Linked DNA regions of Homo sapiens. The main gene of each other region encodes a partner of the protein of the gene in region 2 in a complex. Each region holds a gene or a part of one and is shown on either strand. Other genes may lie near its edges. The genes, in order: VDAC1 and SPG7.

Region 1 (7,265 bases), on a different chromosome or scaffold from region 2:
AAAATTTTTCATGACCACCTTGTTCATGAGATTCATTAAATTCAATACAAAATACATCAATTTTAGGTGCATACCTTTCTGTTCAAAGGGTGTGCTGAGATCTGACACCCCTCATAAGAACAAAGCAGAGAGAAGGAAGGCCTCTTAGGGGCCAGTGTCCTTTTGCTCATATAAATAATGAGGCTCCTTTTCTCTTGTTTTTAAGTGCTTGCTGTTAAGGGAGCCAAATTCGGTTCTAGTTTAGGAGACTTAAAAAGGGCTGTCCATAAATTACACAAACCAGTACAGACACCATTCTGCAACATGAGATTCCCTCATTTCACCCCAAAGAGATACAGCCGCCAGTGCCCTGTGACAACAGAAATGAGCCCAATAGGATTTACTGCAAAAACTGTGTAGTAGTTCGAGGGCCTGTGAGCAATGCCAGAGACTCTGCAAGATGCCAACTGACTATTGATTTCTTAATATGCAATGCAGGAGCTGAAAAGGAGAATGAAAAGTGAGGCGGGGCGGGGGGAATTATCAATTAGAACCCTAGATTTCAGAGTGCCCCTTTTAACAGTCCGCATGATAGAACAGGAACTGGTATTAATGGAAGAGGCTTAACAGTAAGCCAGTCTGGTTCAAATCCAGCTCCCAGCACTTTCCTGCTGTGTACCTTTGAGCAAGTTACTCACCTAAGTTTCTAGTTCCTCATTTGTAAAAACAGAGATGATTGGCCAGGGGCCATGGCTCATGCCTGTAATTCCAGCATTTTGGGAGGCCGAGGCAGGCAGATCACCTGAGGTCAGGAGTTCGAGACCAGCCTGACCAACATGGTGAAACCCCGTCTATACTAAAAACACAAAAATTATCCAGGTGTGGTGGTGGGTGCCTGTGTTCCCAGCTACATGGGAGGGTGAGGCAGTAGAATCACTTGAACCTGGGGGACGGAGGTTGCGCAGTGAGCTGAGATCGTGCCATTGCACTCCAGCCTGGGCAACAAAGGGAGACTCCGTCTCAAAAAAAAAAACAAACAAACAGAGATGATTGGCCAGGCATGGTGGCTCATGCCTTGTAATCCCAACATTTGGGAGGTTGAGGTGGGAGGACAGCTTGAGCCCAGGAGTTTGAGACCAGCCCAGGCAACAGAGTGAGACATTGTCTCTACTAAAAATTTTTTTTTAATTAGCCAGGCATGCTGGTGTGCCTATAGTCCCAGCTACTTGGGAGGCTGAGGTGGCAGGATTACTTGAGCACAGGAGGATGAGGCTGCAGTGAGCTGCAATTACACCACTGCATCCAACCTGGGCCTTGTCTCAAAAAAACAAAAAATAAAAAAAACCCAGAGATGATTAAAAAACCAAAGCACCTATTTCAAATGGGATTAAACACAGTAATCTACACAAAAGGCTCTGCACAGTGCCTGGTACCCATAAGAAGTACTAGTAGTATGATCACTGTACTCATTTGGCACTCTTTTCAAAGTGAGAACATCTCTCACTTTGTTTTTGTTTTTTTGAGACGGAGTCTTTTTTTTTTTTTTGAGATAGAATCTCACTCTGTCACCCAGGCTGGAGTGCAGTGACACGATCTCAGCTCACTGCAACCTCCGCCTCCCCGGTTCAAGCAATTCTCCTGCCTCAGCCTCTCGAGTAGCTGGGATTACAGGCACACGCCACCATGCCCGGCTAATTTTTGTACTTTTAGTAGACAGGGTTTCACCGTGTTGGCGAGGCTGGTGTCAGACTCCTGACCTCAAGTGATCTGCCTGCCTTGGCCTCCCAAAGTGCAGGGATTACAGGCGTGAGTCACGGCGCCCAGCAGCATCTCTCACTTTGAGTAAGCTGAAGCACAGCACTCCAGCAAACCTGAAGGATTCCAACATAAAGAGCAGATGGGCCTGCCTGTGAGATGCGTGATTCCACAGATACCCACCGAGAAGCAGGCGTCAGGGTCAATCTGATACTTGGCTGCTATTCCGAAGCGCGTGTTACTGTTTCCTGCTGTCCAGGCAAGATTGACAGCGGTCTCCAACTTCTTGTTCACTTTCTGGTAAATGGAGCCGCCAAACTCTGTCCCGTCATTCCTGCAAACAAGCACAGGACAGATGCTGAGCTTCCCAGGGAGGTGAGCTGCAGCCCAGACAGATCCACCCAAGTCTCCCAGAAGACAGGGATGACAGAAATGGACTGAACCAATACTGGTATTAAGGGAAGTCAGAAGTTCACCAAATTTCACAAAACAGGTACTAAATTACAGGAAGTCTGATAAGTATGGAACAGGCACCTAGCCAGGCACAGTGGCTCACACCTGTAATCCCAGCACTTTGGGAGGCCGAGATGGGCAGATCACTTGAGGTCAGGGGTTTGAGACCAGCCTGGCCAACATGGTGAAACCCTGTTTCTACTAAAAATACAAAAATTGACCGGGCTGGTGCCATACGCCTGTAATCCCAGCTACTCAAGAGGCTGAGGCAGGAGAATCGCTTGAACCTGGGAGGCAGAGGTTGCAGTAAGCCGAGATCGCGCCACTGCACTCCAGCCTGGGCAACAGAGCAAGACATTGTCTCAAACAAAAAAAGAAAAAGCCAGGGGAGAGGGGGTACGTGGTGACTCACGCCTGTAATCCTAGCATTTTGGGAGGCCGAGGCAGCAGGACTGCTTGAGCCCAGGATATAGCTTGGGCAACAGAGCGAGATCCTGTCTCTATAAGGAAAAAAAAAAAAAAGAAGCAGCAAGTAGAGCACTGAGATTCTGAGTGATTTATTTTTACTGCTACTGATGTTATTACTTTTATAAACGATTCTACCAGAAAAATGGCATGGAAGTCCGGGTGCAGTGGTTCATGCCTATAATCCCAGCACTTTGGGAGGCCAAGGCGGGCAGATCATTTGAGGTCAGGAGTTTGAGACCAGCCTGGCTAACATGATGAAACCCTGTCTCTACTAAAAACATAAAAATTAGCTGGGCATGGTGGCAGGTGCCTGTAATCCCAGCAACCTGGGGGGGTGAGGCAGGAGAATCGTCTGAACCCAGGAGGCAGAGGTTGCAGTGAGCTGAGATCTCACCACTGCACTCCAGTCTGGGTGACAGAGTGAGACTCTGGCTCAAAAAATAAAAGTAAAAATAAAAAATGTTATGGAAAGAGAAGAAAATGAGAAGAGAACACAGCCAGAAATGGCAAGAAAGGTGGGGCTGCACATATGCCTCAGAAGGCAAGTTAGAGCCCTTGGCACAACCTGCTGCAGCCACTGCTGGGGAGATACAGTTGGCACTGACCCAGCCTCTTGGAGGAGCAGCACTTCAAAAGAGCTTAATCCACAATTCATCTCGTCCACCTGTGCATACTCCTCACCCATGCTGCAACATCTAAGCCTGGCAGGATTTGAAAGGGAGCTTTTTGCTACATCATAAAATGTCTCCCTCTTTCAAAAACATTCAGAATGAAACCCCAGCTGGCCAAGCTCCCTCCTCTCTTACAAACACACTGAATGACTCCAGTTGCTGGGAATATCCCTTTCCCTTCTTCAGTCATTCAAATTCTCCTCTTCCTCTTTTGGGGCCCTGCTTAAGCTCTCAGAATTTGAAAGTCTGCCCCACCCAGCTGAACAGCCTATACAAACTCTGCAGTCACTGCCACCCCTAAAAAGGCATACGAAGAGCTCAGAGTCTACACTTTGTCCTCTGTCGGGCTGGGGTCGGCACAGATCATAGACTGTCTCTCATTACTGCTTTCAGATTGTTGTTTATACACACAGTGCATACTGGTGCCTGGTCAGAAGCAACCTTCTCCATGGAGGGAACCACAGAAAACAAAAACAGTTAAAGTGGCTGCCACTGCGGAGCTGGGATGAGCAGGCTGAGGCAGGCTGGAATCACTGCTTTTCATAGGCCCATCTGTACTGTTTGATTTTACAACCATGGGTTCAGACTCCTTTGATTAAAAAAATTAAGAAAAATTTTAATGCTGCAATTTTTTAAAAAGGAATGACCATCCTCCTTGCATCAGATGGTCTTCAAGCCTGCCTAGACCCTCTCAAACATCTTTAACATAAAATCAGTGTCTGAGTTCTGCCTCATCATTGTGGGCATTTCCAGTGGAAATGGCATTGGTTAACTGTGAGTCAGAGCCCACGTACTTTGGAATCCAGCAAAGGGCTTCAGGACCTAAGAACAAAAACTCTAGTCTTCACAAGACACTCTCCCTAAATCAGAGAATACATTCTAAATTTTCTTTTTTTTTTTTCCCCAAGATGGGATCTTGCTCTGTTTCCCAGGCTGGAGAGCAGTGGCAAAATCATAGCTCACTGTAACCTCAAACTCCTGGGCTCAAGTGATCACAGGCATGTTGCCACCATGCCCAGCTAATTTTTAAAAAATTTCTTAGAGACAGAGTATTTCTATGTTCCCCAGGCTGGTCCCAAACTCCTGGCCTCAAGTGATCCTCCCGCCTCAGCCTCCCAAGTAGCTAGGATTACACGTATGAGCCACACATTGTAAATTTTCGTTTCCCCATGAAATTCAGCGAGACAGACATTATGCTTCTAGAAAGTACAGGGAGACCCAGGCACTGCCTGATTCACAGAGAATCCTGTCTTCTGTAGACAGCCCAAGTATGCTACAATAAAACAGCAGCCTGTCAAAAATAAGATTTTTGAATGACTTTAGTAATATATTCAAATGGGGAAGTTTCTTGGGCTTACATGTTTTTAAAAAAGGCCAGACTTTTCAGAATATCCTAAAACCAGGAACACAATACTGCCTTCCTGTACAGAGCTTTCAAAACCATAAACAGAAGGCAGATGCAGTGGCTCACACCTGTAATCCCAGCACTTTGGGAGGCCAAGGCGGGCAGATCGCTTGAGCTCACAAGTTCAAGAACAACCTGGGCAACATGGCGAAATCCTGCCTCCACAAAAAATACAAAAATTAGCCAGGTGTGGTGGCATGCACCTGTAGTCCCAGCTACTTGCAAGGCTGAGGTGGGAGTATCACTTAATCCCGGGAGGTGGAGGCTGCAGAGATCGTGCCACTGAACTCCAGCCTGGGTGAGAGAGTGAGACCCTGTCACCAAAAAATAATAATAATAAATAAATAAATACACAGGTGGAACTGTTCAAATTCATCTATATGAAGCACAAAGAATTTCTGTTATGCATTTGGGCCCCTGCAAGCACCAGGGCAACCCAGATGAGTTGTGTCAGCTGCCTTCACGCTGGTTCCAAAAATAAACCATACCCACTTGTTGCTTATTTAAAATGCTGAAGCTCAGATATGTGGGGGAAATGGCTAACAGCCATTGTTCCTCCTAGAATTGGTACTGAAGAATTGGTGCCAATGCCCAATTTCAAACCAAGGAAAACACTTCCCATGCCAATCAGAATTCTACGTTCAAAAACATTTCTATGCATGTGGTATGTTTCCTATAGCTTTTTAGTATGTTTCACCTCTTCTTAATTAAACATATAATAAAATTGATATTTTCTTTGCTTTTTTTTTTTTTTTTTTTTTTTGAGACGGAGTCTTGCTCTGTTGCTCAGGCTAGAGCGCAGTGGCGTGATCTCGGCTCATTGCAAACTCCACCTCCCAGGTTCAAGCGATTCTCCTGCTTCAGCCTCCCAAGTAGCTGGGATTACAGGCACCCGCCACCACGCCCAGCTAATTTTTGTATTTTTAGTAGAGATGGGGTTTCACCTTCTTGACCAGGCTGGTCTTGAACTTCTGACCTCGTGATCCACCCGCCTCGGCCTCCCAAAGTGCTGGGATTACAGGCGTGAGCCACGACGCCCGGCCAAAATGGATATTTTCTTGGTATACATTTTTACGAATTTTAACACACGTACACAGATTAATGTAACCATGACGACAGTCAGAATATAGAACAGTTCCCTCCCCGAAACTCCCTCAGTCACTGCTTTGTAGTCATACCCTCCCCGCCCCCTGCCAACCACTAGATTGTCCATCTCTATAGTTTTCCTGTGACTTTTTAGCTGTAACAGATTCCAAATTAATGATAAAAATTCCTCAAAAAATTTATTAATGGAAATATTAGTTTACACATTAATATCACTGATTTGCCTTAAGTTTAAGAAGTTACTTCTTTAGTGACCTCTAGTGGAAAGAAATAAACATGGTAACTCTGCACCCAGCTTGTGCCTGTCACAGGTTAATTCCTCATGAAACTAAATAAAACAAGGTTTATGGATAAAACAAGATTCATGAATGAAATGTGTTTCCCTTAACTTAAATCATCAATCTACTTCAATTCTCAAGGGGCTCTCTCCTAACCTATAATCACTGTTTCCCTTCACCATACTGTCCAATAGTTACTTTTACATGCTTCACTGTACAGAGAAGATAGTTTGTAACTGAGATAATCAGCTCCTAAATTTGTCTACCATGTCTACATGTCATCAAGCCCAGCAGGCTAATCCTCAGGCATTAGACAGAGAAAGAGAGCTGTTTTGTTAACTAAAACAAAAACTGCAGGGAATGGACACGCTCTGGACTGACACCATGTCCCTGCTGTAATTAATCAGCCACTTTGTGTACCTGTGGCAATATATACTGTTCACAGAGTGGAAAGGATCTAAGACACTCCAGGAAATGGGTAGGTGGGAAACAAAAGATAGCAGCAGGCCATGTGGCTCATCTAATGCCAACAAACTCACTTTACAGTGGTTAAAAACTGGGCTTTCTTAAAAAAAAAAAAAAAAAAACAGTGAAAAGCAATCCCCTTACCACACATGCTCCAACCCCACCCCTCCCACCCTGCTGCCCCCATGTACACTTACACATTAGTGTGAAGCTGGAATTCATCAGTCTTGTAGCCAACTGCAAAGTTGCTCTGGGTCACTCGGGATTTTGCAGTCTCAAAATTCATCTGGTAGCCGGCCAGCCAGCCCTCGTAACCTAGCACCAGAGCACCCCGGATGGAAGGCCCAGCAATGTCGAAATCCATGTCGCAGCCCAGGTTAATGTGCTCCCGCTTGTACCCTGTCTTGATTTTAGCATTTTTTTTCCTGAAGGAAAATAAGTTATATTAAGATCAGAAGCTAACTCACCTTGAAATGCAAGTTGTCTTTTTTTTTTTTTTAATCCCAGGTCAAATAAAGGGAGTGGGGTGGGGGTGAAGTCAGGGCTCCAGTTCTCCCTTAAGCCACTGCTGTACCACAATGAGCAGGACACAACCTCTCTTCCACAGGGACTCAGTCTGCAGAAACCCCACAATAACGAAGTGAGAACACAGACAGGAAAAGCCTGAAAAATAAATACGAAGTAACT
Region 2 (8,095 bases):
TAAAAGTGAGAGGTGTCAATCCTTCAGGTTCTTTAACCTAAAGCCAAGAGAGACCAAAGAATGTCACAAGGTTTCATTAAATGATTTATTGAAGAGCAAATTATTTGCAGGGTATTTTTAGTGATTGTGTGGATATAAAACATCTGTAGCCACTTTGTAAATCCTTACTAAACATTCTTGCAGCTGACTAGATAACACGAAAAACCTTTTTCAAGCAGCCCAATTACTGGAATACAGCAGAATTTTTTTTAAAAAAGGACAACTTGGCCAGATGCGGTGGCTCATGCCTGTGATCTCAACACTTTGGGAGGCCAAGGCAGGCTGATCGCTTGAGTCCAGGAGTTTAAGACCAGCCTGGGAAACGTGGCAAAACCCCATCTCCACAAAAAATACCCCCCAAAAATTAGCTAGGCGCTTTGGTGTGTGCCTGGAGTCCTGGCTCTATGGAAGGCTGAGGTGGGAGGATCACTCCAGCCTAAGAGGTCAAGGCTCTGCAACTGGGGGATAAGGGAGTAAAGAGGCCCCTTTGGGCCTGGACAACAAAGTGAGACCTTGTCTCTACAAAAAACAATTAGCCGAGTGTGACGGTACACGCCTGTAGTCCTAGCTACTCCGGAAGCAAAGTGGGGAGGATCCCTTGAGCCCAGGAGTTCTAGGCTGTAGTGAGCTCTGATCACACCATTGTACTGCACTCCAGCCCGTGCAACAGGGCGAGATCCCGTCTCTAAAATAAAAAAAGATCAGCCTCCCAAGTAGCTGAGGCGGTAAGTGTGCAGTCATGCTCAGCTGCTTCTTTAAACAGATACATACCTAAAAGTTGCCAGAGTCTGACTGGATTCTGAACTAAATGTTGTTTCAACAACAATCCGTTGATCCCTTCAAAGGTAGGGGTTAGCAGTCTCAATTGTAAGCTCTGAAAAAAAAAAAAAAACAATACTGGAGGTCACACCAACATTAGAGAGTACCAAAGCAATGCAGACTAAAAATCGTTTTTAAAAGTTCAAATATATAATTATTTGTAATATCTACATTGCCCTGAAATATAAAGTAATAGTCTGAGCAATAGGTCAAAGCTTTAGGTAACATCAAAATGTCAAAAGCAAGTAAACAGGTTAAAACACAGTAATTGGCCAGGCGTGGTGGCTCACGGCTGTAATCCCAACACTTTGGGAGGCTGAGGCGGGTGGATCACATGAAGTCAGGAGTTTGAGACCAGCCTGGCCAACATGGTGAAACCTCATCTCTACTAAAAATACAAAAATTAGCCGGGCGTGGTGGTGCACACCTGTAATCTCAGCTACTCAGGAAGCTGAGGCAGGAGAATCGCTTGAACCCGGGAGGCAGAGGTTGCAGTAAGCCGAGATAGCACCACTGCACTCCAGGCTGGGCAACAAAGGGAAACTCCATCTCAAAAAACAAACAAATAAACAAACAAAAAATCACGATAGTGGCCAGGCACGGTGGCTCATGTCTGTAATCCCAGCACTTTGGGAGGCTGAGGTGGGAGGATTGCTTGGGCCCAGGAGGCAGAGGCTTCAGGGAGCCATGATCAGGCCACTGCACTCCAGCCTGGGCGACACAGCGAGATTGTCACAAAAAAAAAAAAAAAAAAAAAAGAAGAAAACAAAACACAGAAGTACATTGGCTGCTATCCCATGGCCTGAAGCTTCTGCAGGAGAAAGGGAGCAGCCCAGCTCTCCAAAGGCCACAGTGGCTGCCCAGACACGGGGCTCCTGCTGTCACCAGAGAGTGGCTCCTTGTAGAACATTTCCAGGTACCAAACCAGTTAACAAGTATATACTTTCAGAGTTCTCCTTTCAAGATAAACATTTTCCCATTTAAATATGTTTTATGGCCGGGCGCGGTGGCTCACGCCCTGTAATCCCAGCACTTTGGGAGGCCGAGGCAGGCGGATCACAAGGTCAAGAGATGGAGACCATCCTGGCCAACATGGTGAAACCCCGTCTCTACTAAAAATACAAAAATTAGCTGGGTGTGGTGGCGCGCACCCGTAATCCCAGCTACTCAGGAGGCTGAGGCAGGAGAATCGCTTGAACCCGGGAGGCGGAGGTTGCAGTGAGCCAAGACCATTGCACTCCAGCCTGGGCGACAGAGCGAGATCTCTGTCTCAAAAATAACCGAAAAAACAACAACCTAAAAGGTGTGGGCTAAGCTCCTAGGCGAGGGCTAGGAGAAAAAAACATCAGCCCAAAAGCTGAAGGACACAAGGTCTGGTTTTCGGGAGGAGATGCTATCCTATCCTTAGCAGAACCTGAAACAAGGCCGCACTACAGGGGGTGCTCAATGACTGTATCAATAACGTGCCGAGCTACATGACAACAGCAAAATGCAGCTACAGGGTATTTTGCGGACACAGAAACGTTCTGGGCCCCCTACTCGGCAATAACCACCCTAACTGGAAGGCGCTGGAATTCCTGGTGACGGAATCGATCCACAGGCGTGGACTGTAAATTAGTGCTACGCCGGAAACCGTTACTGGATTCCACTTTAAAAGGCGAGGAAGACGGGCGGAGAACATCCACACACAACAGACGGGTTGGGAAAGTCCACGCCGAGGACTGCGCGGATCCCAGCCCTGCCTCTTCCCGGCCCGCCCAGCGCCCACGATCCAGGGCCCCAACAGTCGCTCCGCGCCGAGGTCCACAGCTGGGGGATCCGCGGGCCCACAGGCGCAGGCTCCCCCGCCGCAGGGGCCAGGCGGCCTCCGACCCGCCCCGCCGGGCTGGGCCTTACAGAGCAGAGCCGGGCGGGAGGTGGGGCCCGGACTCCGCGGGGATTTACCTGCAGAGCTCGGCCTCCAGCCTCGGCGAGGTCCCCCGGAGGCCTGCTGGCCATGTACGGCCGCCCCCTCCCGGGCCTGGCGGGGAACCCTGGACTCCAGGCCGGGCCTGGGCCCCACAGCGGCCGAGGACCCGGGCCTGGACCCCGGCGGAGGGCACGGAGCAGCAGCAGCAGCACGGCCATGTTGGCCTGAAAGCCGCGCCTGCGTGATCCGCGGGGCGCTACACGGCGCCTGCGCGGCGGGGTGGGCGGGGTCTGACGTGGCGCCTGCGCGGTCCCCACAGCTGCGCCCCGCCGCGCCCGGGTGCCGCTTGCCGCACCCCCGAGCCTGAGCCCGTCTACCTCGTGGCTGCCTGAGGCCCGGGTATGGGGGCGCGCGTCTGCGAGGAGGTCGCGGGTGCCCTGGTTTTTTTGAAGCCGGCCTTGTATTCCCAGGGCCTGGCGGGTGAATAACCGGCCGGGTCGTGGCTGCGTGGTCGTGCTCCGCCCGCGCCGAGGGGCCTCACGCCCGGGCAGCCTGCGTCACCCGCAGGGTTCGGTCACAGGCGAGGGCGGATGGTGCGGGCCGGAATCCCGCCTGCGAGTAGAGGCCCGCGCTCAGGAGGGCGGCGCCGGAGGCCTCGGGTCGGGAGGGCCCCTTCGGGTGTGAGGAGCGCAGGAAGGGGGCGGTTTTCCTGCGTCTTGAGCCGCCCGAGGACGAGGACTGAAGTTGCAGCCGCCGCAGGGAGGGCAGCCCCGGAGGAGGAGGGTCGTGAGGGAGGGAGCGCGCAGTGCGGCGCGGCCTGGCAGGCGTCTGCAGAGCTCGTCCCGCACACCTCTGACTTCGGAGCGCTCCGTCCTGTGCCTTCGGACTGGCTCACCTCGGAGGCGCTTCGAGCCTCGGTCCTGCCCCGGCCGCTGCGCGAGCCCATCGTAGGAAGCGGGGAGGCGCCGTCTGGAAGCTTAGGAAGAGGCTCTGTTCTCTTCAGGGTCCGCCCTCCGGGCCCGGGCAGGGTCCCTCGTGGGCTCCCAGGCGCGCGGGGTCCTCCGCCACCCCGACCCCTTCCTCCGTCCGCCTTAGGTCTAGAGCTGACGCCAAGAGCTGGAAAGCTTGTTGAGTAGGAAAAGCAAAGACTAGATGGTCTGTCACAGAGGTAGGATGAGGGTGACCTATTTATTTTTATGCTTTTCTGTACTCCGCAAATTCGTAACAGTGAATGCCAGTGACGACAGCCAACATCACCGAGTGCCTAGCTCCGTGTCGAACACCCATGTAATATTCACAACCCTGTGCAGCGAATACAATACCTCTATTTTACATGTAAAGAAAGATTCAGAAGTATTAAAAGTAACCTGCCTAGGATTACAGCTCTGAAGTTAGGGCAGAATTTCAAGGCCGGTCTGGTTTGTTTCTGGACCTGCACTCACTCCACCACTACAGACGAGGTTGCAAAGCCAGTGGGCTGCGTGTAATCCTCCCTCTTCCTCAGCCCCGAGACGCTCAGGAAAGTGTTTTCAGTTATCGTGGTTATCCGCCCTCAGCCCTCCAGTGGGCCGGGTGCCTCGGCAGAGGTGCTCGGGGCTGGGGAGGTGTTCTGTTGGTTTGTGGAGAGGACCTTCCCCTACACCCAGGGCTGACACTGATTTTCACAACTGAACCGCTTTTCCTTTTGCTTCTTATTGTACAGTCAGCCTTCGCAGTGAATCCAACCTTGCCGTTTCCTCCTCCACTATTTTTTCTTTCCCTGATTGAAAGACACCAGGTGGGCCGGGCGCGGTGCCCTCCCCCTCCCTCTCCCTGCCCTTCATCCCAGCACTTTGGGAGGCCAAGGCGGGCGGACCACGAGGTCAGGAGATCGAGACCATCCTGGCTAACACGGCGAAACCCCGTCTCTACTAAAAATACGAAAAATTAGCCGGGCGCTGTGGCGGGCGCCTGTAGTCCCAGCTACTCGGGAGGCTGAGGCAGGAGAATGGCGTGAACCCGGGAGGCGGAGCTTGCAGTGAGCCGAGATCCCGCCACTGCACTCCAGCCTGGGCGACAGAGCGAGACTCCATCTCAAAAAAAAAAAAAAAGGTCACAAATCCTCTGAACGCACAGGCATAAAGGGTTGTGGGGCTCGGTCACTTCCTAGAACACAAAAAACCCTTTCGGAAGTTTGGTTGGGTTGGTCACGGGACAAGGCTGGAGAGAGGGTGAGGGCACACATTTGGATGTGTTTGGGAGGAGTTTAAGTGTAGTCCTATTAATATTGTTTGAGATAAGTTAAAATTGTTTCCTGGCAATTCATCAGAAGCAGTGTGGGGTGTTGGCAAGAGGCCTCCTCTGGGGAAAGAACACTGGGTTCTGTCTCCTCTGGCCTATGACCTTAAGCAAGTTATTAGCTTCCTCAAGCCTCAATCTTCTCAGCGGTAAAATGGGGATGATAATTATCTGCAAAGCAAGGCTAATATCAGCCTTGGGTTTCCCACAGGGTGGTTATGAAGATAAAATGCAATAAATGTGTGTGAGGGCAACTGACGAGCCAGGAAGCCTTGGCATCCAGAGTTATTACTGGGACGTCATGGGAAATGAGGATATGGGAACAGAGTATTTATGCATTTATTCAAACTCATCTCTAACAACCGTGCTTTGAAGGCTGGCTGCATCCCAGGCCCTACAGGTGAACCGTGACTCTCAGCTCTCAGCTTCAGCCCCTGCTGTAGTGGCGGCAGCAGCAGAGGCTCACGTAGCCTCAAGCAGTAGGGGTTTTGTTTAAGGATTCGGGTGCCCCATGGTTTGGGGGTTTTGTTTTTATTTTGCTGCATGATTTGGATTCAAGAAGAAGGATCTGTAGGACAGTGGGCTCCCGGGTCTGCCTTTGCCCTCATAGCCTGCAGCAGAGCAGGACGTTCGCTTTCCCTTCTCCGCCTGTGTGTTCTTCCTGCACTGCCTAACTGCTGCTTGCTCATTTGTGCTTCCGTGTCACCCCTCCTCAGCCCTCTGAACTCTGCACGTCAGGACTTGGCACACTTCCTAACTGCTGCTTACTCATTTGTACTTCCGCGTCACCCCTCCTCAGCCCTCTGAACTCTGCGCTTGGACTTGGTGTGACTTCCCTTCCCCGCCTATTCTCTAGAGGCAGTCTCTTGGTGACTCCTGGTTTGGGTCAGGGCACGCCTTAGGTCTCTGGATGGCTACCAACCCCAGGTTCCCTCAGCTCTAGCCCCATAAGAGAGGAGGCCTCAGGAGCGCCTAGGGCAGCCCTTTCAGCCTGGGCTGTGGGAAGGGAAGGTGGACAGAGAGGAGACCCCATGCCTTTGTTCCCTGTTGATGCAGAAGCATTCTAGGCTCTGTCCCTTATTCCTGCTGTGGGCTGAAGCTTCAGGCAAGGTGCTCTACAAACTTCAGTTGCCTCATCTATCAAACAGTAACGTTTAACATTCCAGAGACAGAAGTTGATCTTTGGGACTTTTTTTGATTTTAAGATCTAGGCTGGCTGGGGCGGTGGCTCATGCCTGTAATCCCAGCACTTTGAGAGGCCGAGACCGGTGGATCACGAGATCATCAGGAGATGAGACCATCCTGGCTAACATGGTAAAACCCAGTCTCTACTAAAAATAGAAAAAATTAGCCGGGCACGGTGGCAGGTGCCTGTAATCCCAGCTACTTGGGAGGCTGAGGCAGGAGAATCGATTGAATCTGGGAGGCAGAGACTCCATCTGAAAAAAAAAAAAAAAGATCTAGGCTTCTGGCTGGGTGCTATGTCCCACGCCTGTAATCCCAGCACTTTGGGAGGGCAAGGCAGGTGGATCACTTGAGGTCAGGAGTTCAAGACCAGCCTAGCCAACACGGCGAAACTCTCTTTCTACTAAAAATACAAAAAAATTAGCCAGGCACGGTGGCAACATGCCTGTAGTTCCAGCTACTCGAGAGGCTGAGGCATGAGAATCGCTTGAACCTGGGAGGTGGAGGCTGCAGTGAGTTAAGATCTTGCCACTGCACTCCAGCCTCAGTGATGAGTGAGACCCTGTCTTTTTTTTTATGAGACAAGGTCTCACTCTGTTGCCCAGGCTGAAGTACAGTGGTGCGATCTCAGCTCACTGCAGCCTCTGCCTCCCAGCTTCAAGCGATTCTCCTGCCTTAGCCTCTCGAGTAGCTGGGATGACAGGCATGAGCCATCGCGCCAGGCCAAGACTGTCTCAAAAAAAAAAAAAAAAAAATCTAGGCTTCCTTATTAATATCTGAACAAATAATTACATATTTGCTTCTTTCCAAATTTGGCAGCAACTAAACTTAAAAATTTTTTTAAGTACATTTGCTTTTGCAGTTAGCCTGGCCTCCAGAGCTCTTGGACTGCAGCACCCATAATGATGGCCAAAGCCGCCCCCACGGCGACTCCTCCTGCTGAAGCAAAGTCAGGCAGAACAATAAGGTATGTGTTGAATATGAGGATGTCTTACATAAAACATGTTACCTTGTGGAATGCTTGAAAATAAACGAGTTCATCTCTGTAAATTTTAGTACATTTTCTTCCTGAAGCTCTTTCTTAGGAAACAGTTTCTTCTTATATCACTTGTTAACTGGGCTTTACTCATCCATGTAGAACCAGATTTTATTCTTCTTTAAAAGATGGGGCTGGGCGTGGTGGCTCACGCCTGTAATCCCAGCACTTTCGGAGGCCGAGGTGGTTGGATCTGGATTACCTGAGGTCAGGAGTTGGAGACCGGCCTGGCCAACATGGTGAAACCTCATCTCTACTAAAAATACGAAAATTAGCTGGGTGTGGTGGCAGGCGCCTGTAATCCCAGCTACTCAGGAGGGAGACTGAGGCAGGAGAATCGCTTGAACCCGGGAGGTGGCGGTTGTGGTGAGCCGAGGTCGCGCCACTGCACTCCAGCCTGGGCAACAGAGTGAGACTCCGTCTCAAAAAAAAAAAAAAAAAAAAAAAAAAAAATGCTGGGCACCGTGGCTCACGCCTGTAATCCCAGCACTCTGGGAGGCCGAGGGTGGGTGGATCATCTGAGGTCAGGAGTTGGGAGACTATCCTGGCCAACATGGTGAAACCTCCTCTCTACTAAAAATACGAAAATTAGCTGGGTGTGGTGGCAGGCGCCTGTAACCCCAGCTACTTGGGAGGCTGAGGCAGGAGAATCGCTTGAACCCAGGAGGTGTTGGTTGAAGTGGGCCGAGATCGCATCGCGTCACTGCACTCCAGCCTGCGCGACAGAGTGAGACTCCACCTCAAAAAAAAAAAAAAGGGTGGGCGGATCACCTGAGGTCTGGAGATTGAGACCAGCCTGACCAACATGGAGAAACCCCGTCTCTATAAAA

The links.
Region 1: SPG7 (region 2) and VDAC1 share a complex: the UniProt entries of both Homo sapiens proteins name them as parts of the mitochondrial permeability transition pore complex.

Annotation. Positions count from the first base shown.
Region 1 is NC_000005.10:133,973,954-133,981,218, forward strand, and holds part of VDAC1 (non-selective voltage-gated ion channel VDAC1), read right to left. Parts: intron 7,242-7,265; exon of another isoform or gene 7,195-7,241; coding exon of another isoform or gene 7,153-7,194; intron 7,046-7,152; exon of another isoform or gene 7,004-7,045; coding exon 6,776-7,003; intron 2,069-6,775; coding exon 1,918-2,068; intron 1-1,917. UniProt on the Homo sapiens protein: Non-selective voltage-gated ion channel that mediates the transport of anions and cations through the mitochondrion outer membrane and plasma membrane.
Region 2 is NC_000016.10:89,503,308-89,511,402, reverse strand, and holds the start of SPG7 (mitochondrial inner membrane m-AAA protease component paraplegin isoform 1 precursor), read right to left. Parts: upstream 3,001-8,095; 5' UTR 2,986-3,000; coding exon 2,803-2,985; intron 914-2,802; coding exon 811-913; intron 1-810. UniProt on the Homo sapiens protein: Catalytic component of the m-AAA protease, a protease that plays a key role in proteostasis of inner mitochondrial membrane proteins, and which is essential for axonal and neuron development.